2 separate regions of the Homo sapiens genome follow, and region 2 is linked to region 1. The links come from fine-mapping of genetic effects on gene expression. A gene starts in region 1. The other region holds a variant in brackets. All regions are shown on one strand. Distances are from middle to middle.

What was found. PIP is the estimated chance that this variant, and not a neighbour inherited with it, causes the effect. A credible set is the group of variants that fine-mapping cannot tell apart.
Region 2: its variant is the best candidate, but not a certain one, in a credible set for the expression of TIMD4 in whole blood (INTERVAL, PIP 0.51).

What each region holds. Positions count from the first base shown.
Region 1 is chr5:156,960,083-156,965,472 of GRCh38, forward strand. TIMD4 (T cell immunoglobulin and mucin domain containing 4) reads right to left here and starts at 3,144. Exons shown (of 9, transcript NM_138379.3): 1 at 3,059-3,144. The coding sequence starts at 3,116.
Region 2 is chr5:156,999,408-157,004,797 of GRCh38, forward strand. No RefSeq gene overlaps it. Among named protein-coding and RNA genes, the nearest start is that of TIMD4, 39 kb to the left of the region's middle. The variant T/G (reference allele first, on the strand shown) is at 2,320.

The DNA of each region.
Region 1 (5,390 bases):
AAAAGGCACCTATGAAAAAAAAAACAAAATAAAACAAAAAACAGCTCACCAGGTGCTGCCTCCTTCAAGCAGGATTAGAAAATTCCCCTCAACCAGTGTCTTGCTAGTAGCAGGACATGTAGACATAGACCCCTGCAACTTTCAACCTAACAAAACCTTCCAAACTTCAAGTTTCCAGGATAAGACAAAGACAGTAAAAAAAAATTGATGAAAAGGCAGATGGTAGCTTTCTTACATCCAAACAAACCCATACCAAACCCAAAATATAAGTGTGAAAGTGACAGGGACTGCTTTCATTCTGTAGATTGTTTTTTTCTTCCCCCTTTTTTTTTTTTTTTTTTTCAGAAAGAGTCTCACTCTGTCACCCAGGCTGGAGTGCAGTGGTGCAATCTCGGCTCACTGCAACCTCTGCCTCTCTAGTTCAAGCGATTCTCCTGCCTCAGCCTCCTGAGTAGCTGGGATTACAGGCACATGTCACCACGCCTGGCTAATTTTTATATTTTTAGTAGAGACGGGGTTTCACCATGTTGGCCAGGCTGGTCACAAATTCCTGACCTCGGGTGATCCACCAACCTCGGCCTCCCAAAATGCCAGGATTATAGGCATGAGCCACCACCCCTGGCCTGTAGATTGTTTCTTCAGTGCCTATAATGTATCAAGGGTGGAACTAGGTGCTGGAATATAACAAGCCACAAAGCAGACCTGGGCTGCCCTCATGGGGCCTGCAGAGTACCTAGGAAGATAGTCAAATGAGTGAGCATTTGCTATAGAGTGACAAGTTTACAGATGCAGGAACTCCAAGGAGGATGCGAACTCATAGCAGAAACACCTGAACTATTCCAGAGGCTACAAGGTAGCCAGGAAAAGCCTGAATTAAGTAGGGACCTGAGGATGCATGGCACTACGGAGGAAAGAAAGGCAGAGAGAATAGTACAAGTTTGAGAGGTGATGAAACACATTTGTTTTCCTTCAAATATGGGTGTTTTCTCATGCACCATGTTGGAAAGGTTTCTGCACATACAAAGAGCCAAGAGGTAGAAGAAAAAATGTTTAACATTGCTAATCACTGGGGAAATGCAAATCCAAACCACAATGAGGTATCACTTCATTTCTGATAAAATGGCTACTATCAAAAAGACAAAAAGCAAGCATTGCTGGCGAGGACGCAAAGAAAGAGGAACTCTCGTACGCTGTTGGTGGGAATGTAAATTACTACAGCCATTATGGGAAACAGTATGGTGATTCCTTAAAAAACTAAAAATAGAATTACCATATGATCCAACAATCCCACTACTGGGGATATATCCCAAAGAAAGGAAATCAATTAAAGAGATATTTACTCTCCCATGTTTATTACAGCACTATGCACGATAGCCAAGATATAGAAGCAACCTACGTGTCCATCAATGGATGAATGGATAAAGAAAATGTGGTATATGGCCAGGTGCGGTGACTCACGCCTATAAGCCCAGCACTTTGGGAGGCCGAGGTGAGTGGATCGCCTGAGGTCAGGAGTTCAAGACCAGCCTGACCAATATGGTGAAACCCCGTCTCTACTAAAAATACAAAAATTAGCCAGGCATGGTGGCAGGCGCCCATAGTCCCAGCTACTTGGGAGGCTGAGGCAGGAGAATGGCGTGGACCCAGGAGGCAGAGCTTGCAGTGAGCCGAGATAGAGATAGTGCCACTGCAGTCCGGCCTAGGCAAAAGAGCGAGACTCCGTCTCAAAAAAAAAAAAAAAAAAAAAAAAAAAAGAAAGAAAAAAAAAAAGAAAATGTGGTATATAAACACAGTAGAATATTCAGCCATAAAAAAAGAATGAAACTCAGTCATTTGCAACAACATGGATGGAAACAGAGTTTATTAATATTGTGTTAAGTTAAGCTAGGCACAGAAAGACAAATATTGCATGTTCCCACTCATACATGAGAGCTAAAAAAGTTGATCTCATGAAAGTGGAGAATAGAATGATAGTCACTGGAGTCTACAAAGGATAGGGGAAAAGGGGTATGAAGAAAGGCAGGTTAATGGGTACAAAAATACAGTTAGTTAGAACATGAGGAAAAAGGGAAAAAATACAATTAAATAGAAGGAATAAGTCCTAGTGTTTGATAGCATAGTGGGGTGCCTATTGTTATTAATAATTTCTTGTGTATTTCAAAATAACTAGAAGAGAACATTTGAAATGTTCTCAGCACAAAGAAATTTAAATGTTTCAAGAAATGAATATCCCAACTACCCTGATTCGATCATTGTACATTGTATGTATATATCAAAATAACACATATGTAGCCCATAAATATGTATAGTTATTTTGTATCCATTTAAAAAAAAAATGGACTTTTGTAAAACTGCAAGGGCCATTCAATATTATCTTGTCCTAGAAGCACAGATTGTGACAACTGGTCATTTAAAAAGCCAGGTCTCTCATTTCAAATATGGGAGAGCCAGAGCAATTTAGACATATTCCCAGTGTCAACAGTTAGTGCCCGAGACGCAGCTGCAGCTCAGGCCAGAACACTTGGCTCTATACCACCAGGATGCAAAGAACTTCACTGGCCAAAACTGAGTGTGTACACTTGCATCATCCAAAACCCAAAAACAACGTGCAGAAAAGAAACCTTACATAAAGCCTCACCCCAGCAAAACAAAACAAAAAGCAAACACTTCTAAAAACAGAGGGAATGATAAGAATTATCACAATTCTCACCAGAACAAATTCTCCTGGCTTATTGATTATATGAATAACACCCATAGAGGAAATCTCTTTTCCCCAATTTATCTGACCACTTATTTCTGTGTCTCTTCTTCAGTTGCTGTTTCCAATATAAGCCCAAATTACCCCAGCCTAAAACCCCCAGACCAGTCTCTGGATAAACCTCTGTGTAACAAGGCAGGACAGAGACCCTCCACAGAAGGAAGCCTGGTAGGGAGAGGGGAGGGATGCAGAAATGAAGTGAGCTTCTGCTTCACTGAGGCCCAAACCAGTGCATGGAAATCCATCACACAATAGCAAGTCCTCTGGAAACTTCTACATAGAAGGTTTCAGAACACTTACTCAGGTAAAGCCACCAAAACTCAATCATCAGCCAGAGAATGAGAGGTTCTTTGGACATTTTGACGGTTGACCGGACCCAGGAGTCTGTCTATCTATCCAAAGCCCAACCTCTTATATCCCAGTTAATGCTGACAGGGTGGGACTCTTTAGTTTCATTTCTCTTTTTGCCTCATAATCTTCCCTTTCTCCTGTCCTACATGGCTTCCCCCAATGGGCGATGCATGATGAAATGTGCTGAGCCCTTTTCTCCTGGTGACTAGTGTGTGTGTGGAGGGATGGCGTGGACATACTTGTGCTTCTTTGTCCATGTGTATAGTGGGTTTCCTATATGTGCACAAGCATCCATGCATGTGCTGGTGCAAATATGCCTGTATAACCTGTGCATGTGCCACAGTTGTCCCAACTGCTGTACAGCCTGTCACAAAGTGCAATTGACTCTCCATACTGGCAAGTGTTTACATGTAGATTCCTCATGGGGCCAAAGCATAGTTAGACTGAAAGTTGCCTCCATTCCCATTCTAGGTTCTCCCTCACCCTGTCCCCTGGCCTCCTTGCCCTAATAATGGAGAAAGAAAAGTGAGGACAGGCACAGTGGCTCACACCTGTAATCCTAGCACTTAGGGAGGCCGAGATGGGAGGATCGCTTGAGGCCAGGAGTTTGAGACCAGCCTGATCAACATGGCGAAACCCCATCTCAATTTTTTATTTAAAAAAAAGTTTAATAAAAAAATTAAATTTTTTTTTAAGTTTTAGGAAGACACTGAAGCCCAGAACTTCCTGATTCCAAAGCTTATGGTTAATCACTACATTGTCCTTTGACCTGTGACCGTTTGGGTAATGTATCCATATGATGAGGCCTACCTGTGGCTAGCTCCTACTTAGTACCAGGAAGAAAATATAAGAATTCACAAATGTTCTAGATTTTTAAAAATCCTTAATTGATTGTAAACAGCCAGCAAACCTCAAACATTCAACATTGCTTCTACTGAAGGTATCAGTGAAAAATCTAAATATCAGGTGAGGTTCTAGACCCAGAGAAGCCAGACTAACATGAGCAGGGATGAAAATAACGGGATTCAGAGTGAATCTTCCCACTGAATGCCCACAGAACCAAGGGATCCTTTCCCCATTCTATCCCAGGAAACTGGAGGATTTAATCTCTGGATAAACTAAGTGGTCCCAATAAAACATTTTCAGATATTTATAGTTTTGAGTGTTCCCCAACAAAACCACTCAACCCTCCTTCAATAAGTTCATCAGTGCATGAGCCTCAGCCATGCATGCAGAACTGTTAATGAGTCTTTAGTGTCCCTTTCAGATATGAACAGATAACCAGGGATCATCAGACATTTGAGGAAAGCATTTAACATAAAAAAGAGACAAAAATAACAGGGAGAGCTAAAGAGAACTTCAAAAACTTTTTAAAAAGCTAATATTTTCTCAGAAAGAAAGATTTTACATTCATGAAAAAGAACATAGACATTATAAAAATGTCCCGAATTTTATGGAAGTTTTGAAAAATAAAGTTAAGAAAATTTGTTAGAAATTATAACCATCTACAAAGTCAAAGGACTAGGATTGTTTCAGAACATTAAAAAAGAAAATAGAGGAGAGGAAATTACTAAAGAAATAATAAAGGAAAGACTCTCGTAACTAAAGGAGATGACTCTCAGTATTGAGCGGGTCAATCAAATGCTAAACTCAATGAATAAAAATATCCCCAAAAAGCAAGACATTATCATGTAATATGAGAACATCAGACATAAAGAAAAGATACGAAAAGACTCCAGAGAGAAAGAACAACATATTGCACTGAATGGATTTGGAAATAGAATGGCATTGTTGTTCCAAACAACAAAGCTAGAAAATAATGCACGAATGCCTTCAAAATTCAGAGGGAAGGCCGAGTGTGGTGGCTCACATCTGTAATCCCAGCATTTTAAGAGGCCAAAGTGGGTGGATCACTTGAGTCCAGGAGTTCCAGAATAGCCTGGGCAACATGGTAAAAACCTGTATCAGCCGGGCGTGGCGGCTCACGCCTGTAATCCCAGCACTTTGGGAGGCCAAGACGGGCAGATCATTTGAGGTCAGGAGTTCAAGACAAGTCCCAGCAACATGGCAAAACTGGTCGCTACTAAAAATACAAAAATTAGCTGGGTGTGGTGGTGCATGCCTGTAATCCTAGCTACTTGGGAGGCTGAGGCAGGAGAATCACTTGAACCCAGGAGGCAGATGTTGCAGTGAGCTGAGATCATGCTACTGCACTCCAGCCTGGGTGACAGAAGGAGACTCCATCAAAAAAAAAAAAAAAAAGAGGAAAAGAAAATCTATA
Region 2 (5,390 bases), 39 kb after region 1:
AAAATTAGCTGGGTGTGGTGACATGCACCTATAGTCCCAGCTACTTGGGAAGGTGAGACAGGAGGATGGCTTGAGCCCTGGAGGTGGAGGTTGCAGTGAGGCGAGATTGCATCACTGTACTCCAGCCTGGACAACATAGTGAGAAACTGTATCTACAAAAATAAAATAAAATAAAATAAAATAAAATTAAATTAAATTAAATTAAAATAAAATACAAAAATTTGCAAGTTAAAACTGCAATTAGGTAACATGACACATCCATCAGATTGGCTAAATTTAAAAACAGTAACAATATCAAATGCTGACAAGTGTCCAGAAACACCAAATCACCCATACTTGCTAATGGGAATATAAATGGTGCCACCATTCTGGAAAATTGTTTGGTAGTTTCTTAAAAACCTAATGCACAGGTAGATCCAAAATCAATCGTTAAGTAACAAAACAAGTTACAGAACAATATGCATAATTTGGTCTTCTTTTAAAATTTTATTTCAATCGTTTTGGGAGAACAGGTGGTGTTTGGTTACATGGAAAGGTTCTTTTGTGCTGATTCCTGAGATTTTGGTGCACTCATCACCTGAACAGTGTACACTGTACCCAATGTGTAGTCTTTTATTCCTCACCCTCCTCCCACTTCTCCCCCCAAGTCCCCAGAGTTCATTATATCATTCTTATGCCTTTGCATCTTCATAGCTTAGTTCCCACTTATAAGTGAGAACCCATGATGTTTGGTTTTCCATTCCTGAGTTACTTGACTTAGAATAATGGTTGCTGTGAATGCCATTATTTTGTTCTTTTTTATAGCTGAGTAGTATTCCATGGTATATATATAAAACACATTTTCTTTAACTTGTTGGTTGATGAGCATTTAAGACTGGTTCCATATATTTGCAATTGTGAACAGTGTACTATAAACATGCTGTGCAAGTGTCTTTTTCATATAATGACTTATTTTCCTCTGGGTAGATACCCAGTGGTGGGGTTGTTGGATCAAATGGTAGTTCTACTTTTAGTTCTCTGTGGAATCTCCACACTGTTTTCCATAGTGGTTGTACTAGTTTATATTCCCACCAGCAGTGTAGAAGTGTTCTCTTTTCACCACCTCCAAGCCAACATCTGTTATTATTTATTTTTTAATTATGGCCATTTTTGCAGAAGTAAGGTTGATCTTATTTTTAAAAGCACAACACAAAACAAAATGTATATGGGTATTTATATTTGTATTTGCTTAGGAAAAATTGTGGAAGGGATACACAGGCAACCATGAATTGCAGTAATCACTTCACTATGGAATAAGAAATGAGATTGAAGAAAACACATTTTCTAGATGTGATTAGAAGTAGTCTCTATAGCAGCACTATACAATAAAACATTTTGTGGTGCAGAATTAGAAAAAACTATTTTAAAATTCATATGGATCCAGAAAGGAGTCTGTATAGCCAAGACAATCCCAACCAAAAAGAACAAAGCCGGAGTCATCACTCAACTGAATTTCAAACTATACTGTAAAGCTACAATAACCAAAACTGCACGGTACTGGTACAGAAACAGACACACAGACAAATGGAACAGAATAGAGAACTCAGAAATAAGATCACACATCTACAACCATCAGATCTTTGACAAACCTGACAAAAACAAGCATTGGAGAAAGAACTCCCTATCTAATAAGTGGTGCTGGGACAACTGGCTATCCATTTGCAGAAAATTGAAACTGGACCCCTTCCTCACACCTTATACAAAAATTAACTCAAGATGGATTAAAGACTTAAATGTAAAACCCAAAACTATAAAAATCCTAGAAGAAAATCTAGGCAATACCATTCAGGACATAGGCATGGGCAAAGATTTCATGATAAAATTGCCAAAAGCAATTGCAACAAAAGCCAAAATTGATGAATGGGATCTAATTAAACTAAAGAGCTTCTGCACAGCTAAAGAAACTATCATCAAAGTGAACAGGCAACCTACAGAGTGGGAGAAAATCTTTGCCCTTTTTTTTTTTTTTTTTTTTTTTGAGACAGAGTCTCACTCTGTCACCCAGGCTGGATAGCAATGGCACAATCTCAGCTCACTGCAACCTCTGCCTCTCAGGTTCAAGCGATTCTCCCACCTCAGCCTCCTGAGTAGCTGGGATTACAGGCATCTGCCATCATGCCCAGTATTTTTGTGGAGACAGGGTTTCACCATGTTGGCCAGGCTGGTCTCAAACTCCTGACCTCAGGTGATCTGCCCACCTCAGCCTCCCAAAGTGCTAGGATTACAGGCTTGAGCTACTGCACCTGTCCGAAAACCTTTGCAATTTATCCATCCGACAAA[T/G]GTCTAATATCCAGAATCTACAAGGAACTCAAACAAATTTACAAGAAAAAGACAAACCCATTAAAAAGTGGGCAAAGGACATGAACAGACATATCTCAAAAGAAGACATTCATGCAGGCAACAAACACATGAAAAGAAAGCTCAACATTACTGATCATTAGAGAAATGCAAATCAAAACCACAATGAGATATCATCTCATGCCAGTCAGAATGGCCATTATTAAAAAGTCAAAAAACAACAGATGCTGGTGAGGTTGTAGAGAAATAGGAATGCTCTTACACTATTGGTGGGAATGTAAATTAGTTAAACCATTGTAGAAGATGGTGTGAAAGAATGATCAAGCAAAATAAAAATTAAGAATACTTGTTTACAAAAAAAAAAAAAATGTGTGATGATGGAAAGGTTCAACACTATGTTGTTCAACAGGGTAGCTCCTAGCCATCTGTGTTTATTGCACACTTTAAAAGTGGCTAATGCAACTGAGGACTGAATTTTTAATTTAATTCCATTTTAATTAATTTTAATTTTAAAATAGCCATATATGGCTACTGGCTGGCTTAGTGAACAGCACAGCTCTAGAATCAAAATGAATATATCCACAGCCTATTTCCACCACTTTCAAGTTATTTAAACACAAGTACATTTCTGAATGCCTCAATTTCTTCACCTATGGAATCTGGATGATAGGAATATTTTACTAGCAAAGTTGTTGTATAATCTCCTCAGAACTATACTTATATATTGATATAATTATTTCACCTCTTATTTAATACTTTGTGTACTTTTTAAATTTTGTACAATAAACATGTATTTCCTTTGTAAGTTTTATAAAATATATTTTTGAAAGCTAAAACTTCTCTGGTTTTGTACAGTCTTTCTTCCATGAATAGAAAAAAATTCACTTTGAGTCCCACTTTTCCCTCTACCCAGTTACAAGTTAAGGCTGACATTATTACATGGGCAATGGTGTAAAGTCAGAAATGGCTGACCTGTGGGTTCCTAAGAAGCCTGAGACTTCTCCGGCTTAAGCTCACATTTTTGCAGTGAGGCACTACTGGATACCTTCCTGGGCCTCTAAGGCTATTTATTTCCTTGAGCTATTTTCCTTCCCCTCTCACATACCTGAGATGTTCCACCCTTTAGAACTATCATGACCTGCTGTCTTCATGGAGCTTAGCATCTAGAGGTGGAGAAAGAGAAAACAAGTAATCAACTAATGTTGTAACAGATGCTATGAATAAAAGAAACAAAGCTGCAGATTAAAAAAAAAAAGGTTGGCAGAAATATTGATCAGAAACAGTCTTTCTGAGAAAATGACTATGACGGTGAATTTTATGTATCAACTTGACTTGGTCACAGGATGCCTACATAGCTAAACATTATTTCTAGGTCTATCTGTGAGAATATTTCCAGACAAGATTAGCATTTGAATTGGTGGACTGAGTAAAGCAGCTGGCCCTCCCCAATATGAGTGGACACCCTCCAGTCTGTGAGGACCTGAATAGAACAAAAAGATGGAGGAAATTAACTCTGCCTGACCACTTGAACTGGAACATCAATCTTCTCTGTTCTCAGTGAATCTGGTTTGCAGGCCTTTAGACCCAGACTATCATCTACACCATCAGCCCTCTGTCTTTCAGGCCTTTGAACTACCCTACCAGTTTTTCTATGTCTTCAGCTTGTAGAACAGCAAACCAAGGGACTTCTCAGCCTCCATAATTGCATAAGCCAATACCGTATAATAAATCTCTTCCTTTATAGGTAGAGAGAGAGAGATGGCATGAAATGAGCCAAAGGCATAGCCTTGCAGATAGAGGAAACAGAATGTGCAAAGACACTAAGTTGAGGAATAACTTGGAATTTCCTAGACATATAAAGAAAGCCGGTATGACCAGAAAGCAGTGAGTGAGAGAAAGATGGTGTGGACCATATTTGAATAACTACCAGAAAAAAGCCATATGACACAGGCCAAAGGAAGAACTGGGGGTTCATTCTAAGGACTATGTATAGATGGATTGTGTAATATAATTCACATTTTAAGGATATTGCTTTATCAGAAATGGAAGAATAATGGCCCTATAGTGCATCAAGCCTTCCTCTTGTTGGCTATTATTAAAAATGGCATCAGTGAGGCTGGGCATGGTAGCTCACATCTGTAATCCCAACACTTTGGGAGGTCAGGAGTTTGAGACAAGCCTAGGCAACATGTAAGATCCTGTCTCCACAAAAAATTTTTATAAAATGAATTTTTTAAATGGCATAAGGGCTCTTTTCACTCTAAGGGGTCATTTCAGTTACCTATTGCTACATGCAAAACACATTAAAACTTAGTGGCTTAAAACCACATTATATTATTATCTCTTATGTTTCTGGAGCATTCTCATTTGGGGTCACTTAAGCAGTTGCTATCAGATGATGGCTTGGACTGTAATCATCTGAAGGCTTGACTGGGCTAGACATCCAAGATGACTCCCTCCCATGGCTTGCAGTTGATGCTGGCTTTTGGTAGAAAACTCAGCTGGGCTGTCAACTACGGTATCTACCCAGCCTCTTCATCTGGCTTGGGCTGCTTTCATTATGACAGTTTGGTTCTGAATAAGAGCATCAAACAGAGAGCATCTTAAGAACAAGTGTTCCAAGAGGTCCAAGTGAAAGCTGCAAGCCTTGTTTTTTTTTTAGACAGAGTTTCACTCTTGTTGCCCAGGCTGGAGTGCAGTGGTGCAATCTTGGCTCACTGTAACCTCCACCTCCCAGGTTCAAGCAATTCTCCTGCCTTAGCCTCCCAAGTAGCTGGGATTACAGGTGTGTGTCACCACACCTGGCTAATTTTTGTATTTTTAGCAGAGACAGGGTTTCACCATATTGGCCAAGCTGGTCTTGAACTCCTGACCTCAGGTGATCTGCCCACCTCAGCCTCCCAAAGTGCTGGGTTTACAGGTGTGAGCCACTGTACCTGGCCTGAAAGTTGCAAGGCTTCTTATGATCTAACTTCAAAAGTTCCCGTAACATCACCTCTGCCACATTCTATAGGTCGAAGATCACTGAGGCTAACCCAGATTCAAGGTGAGAG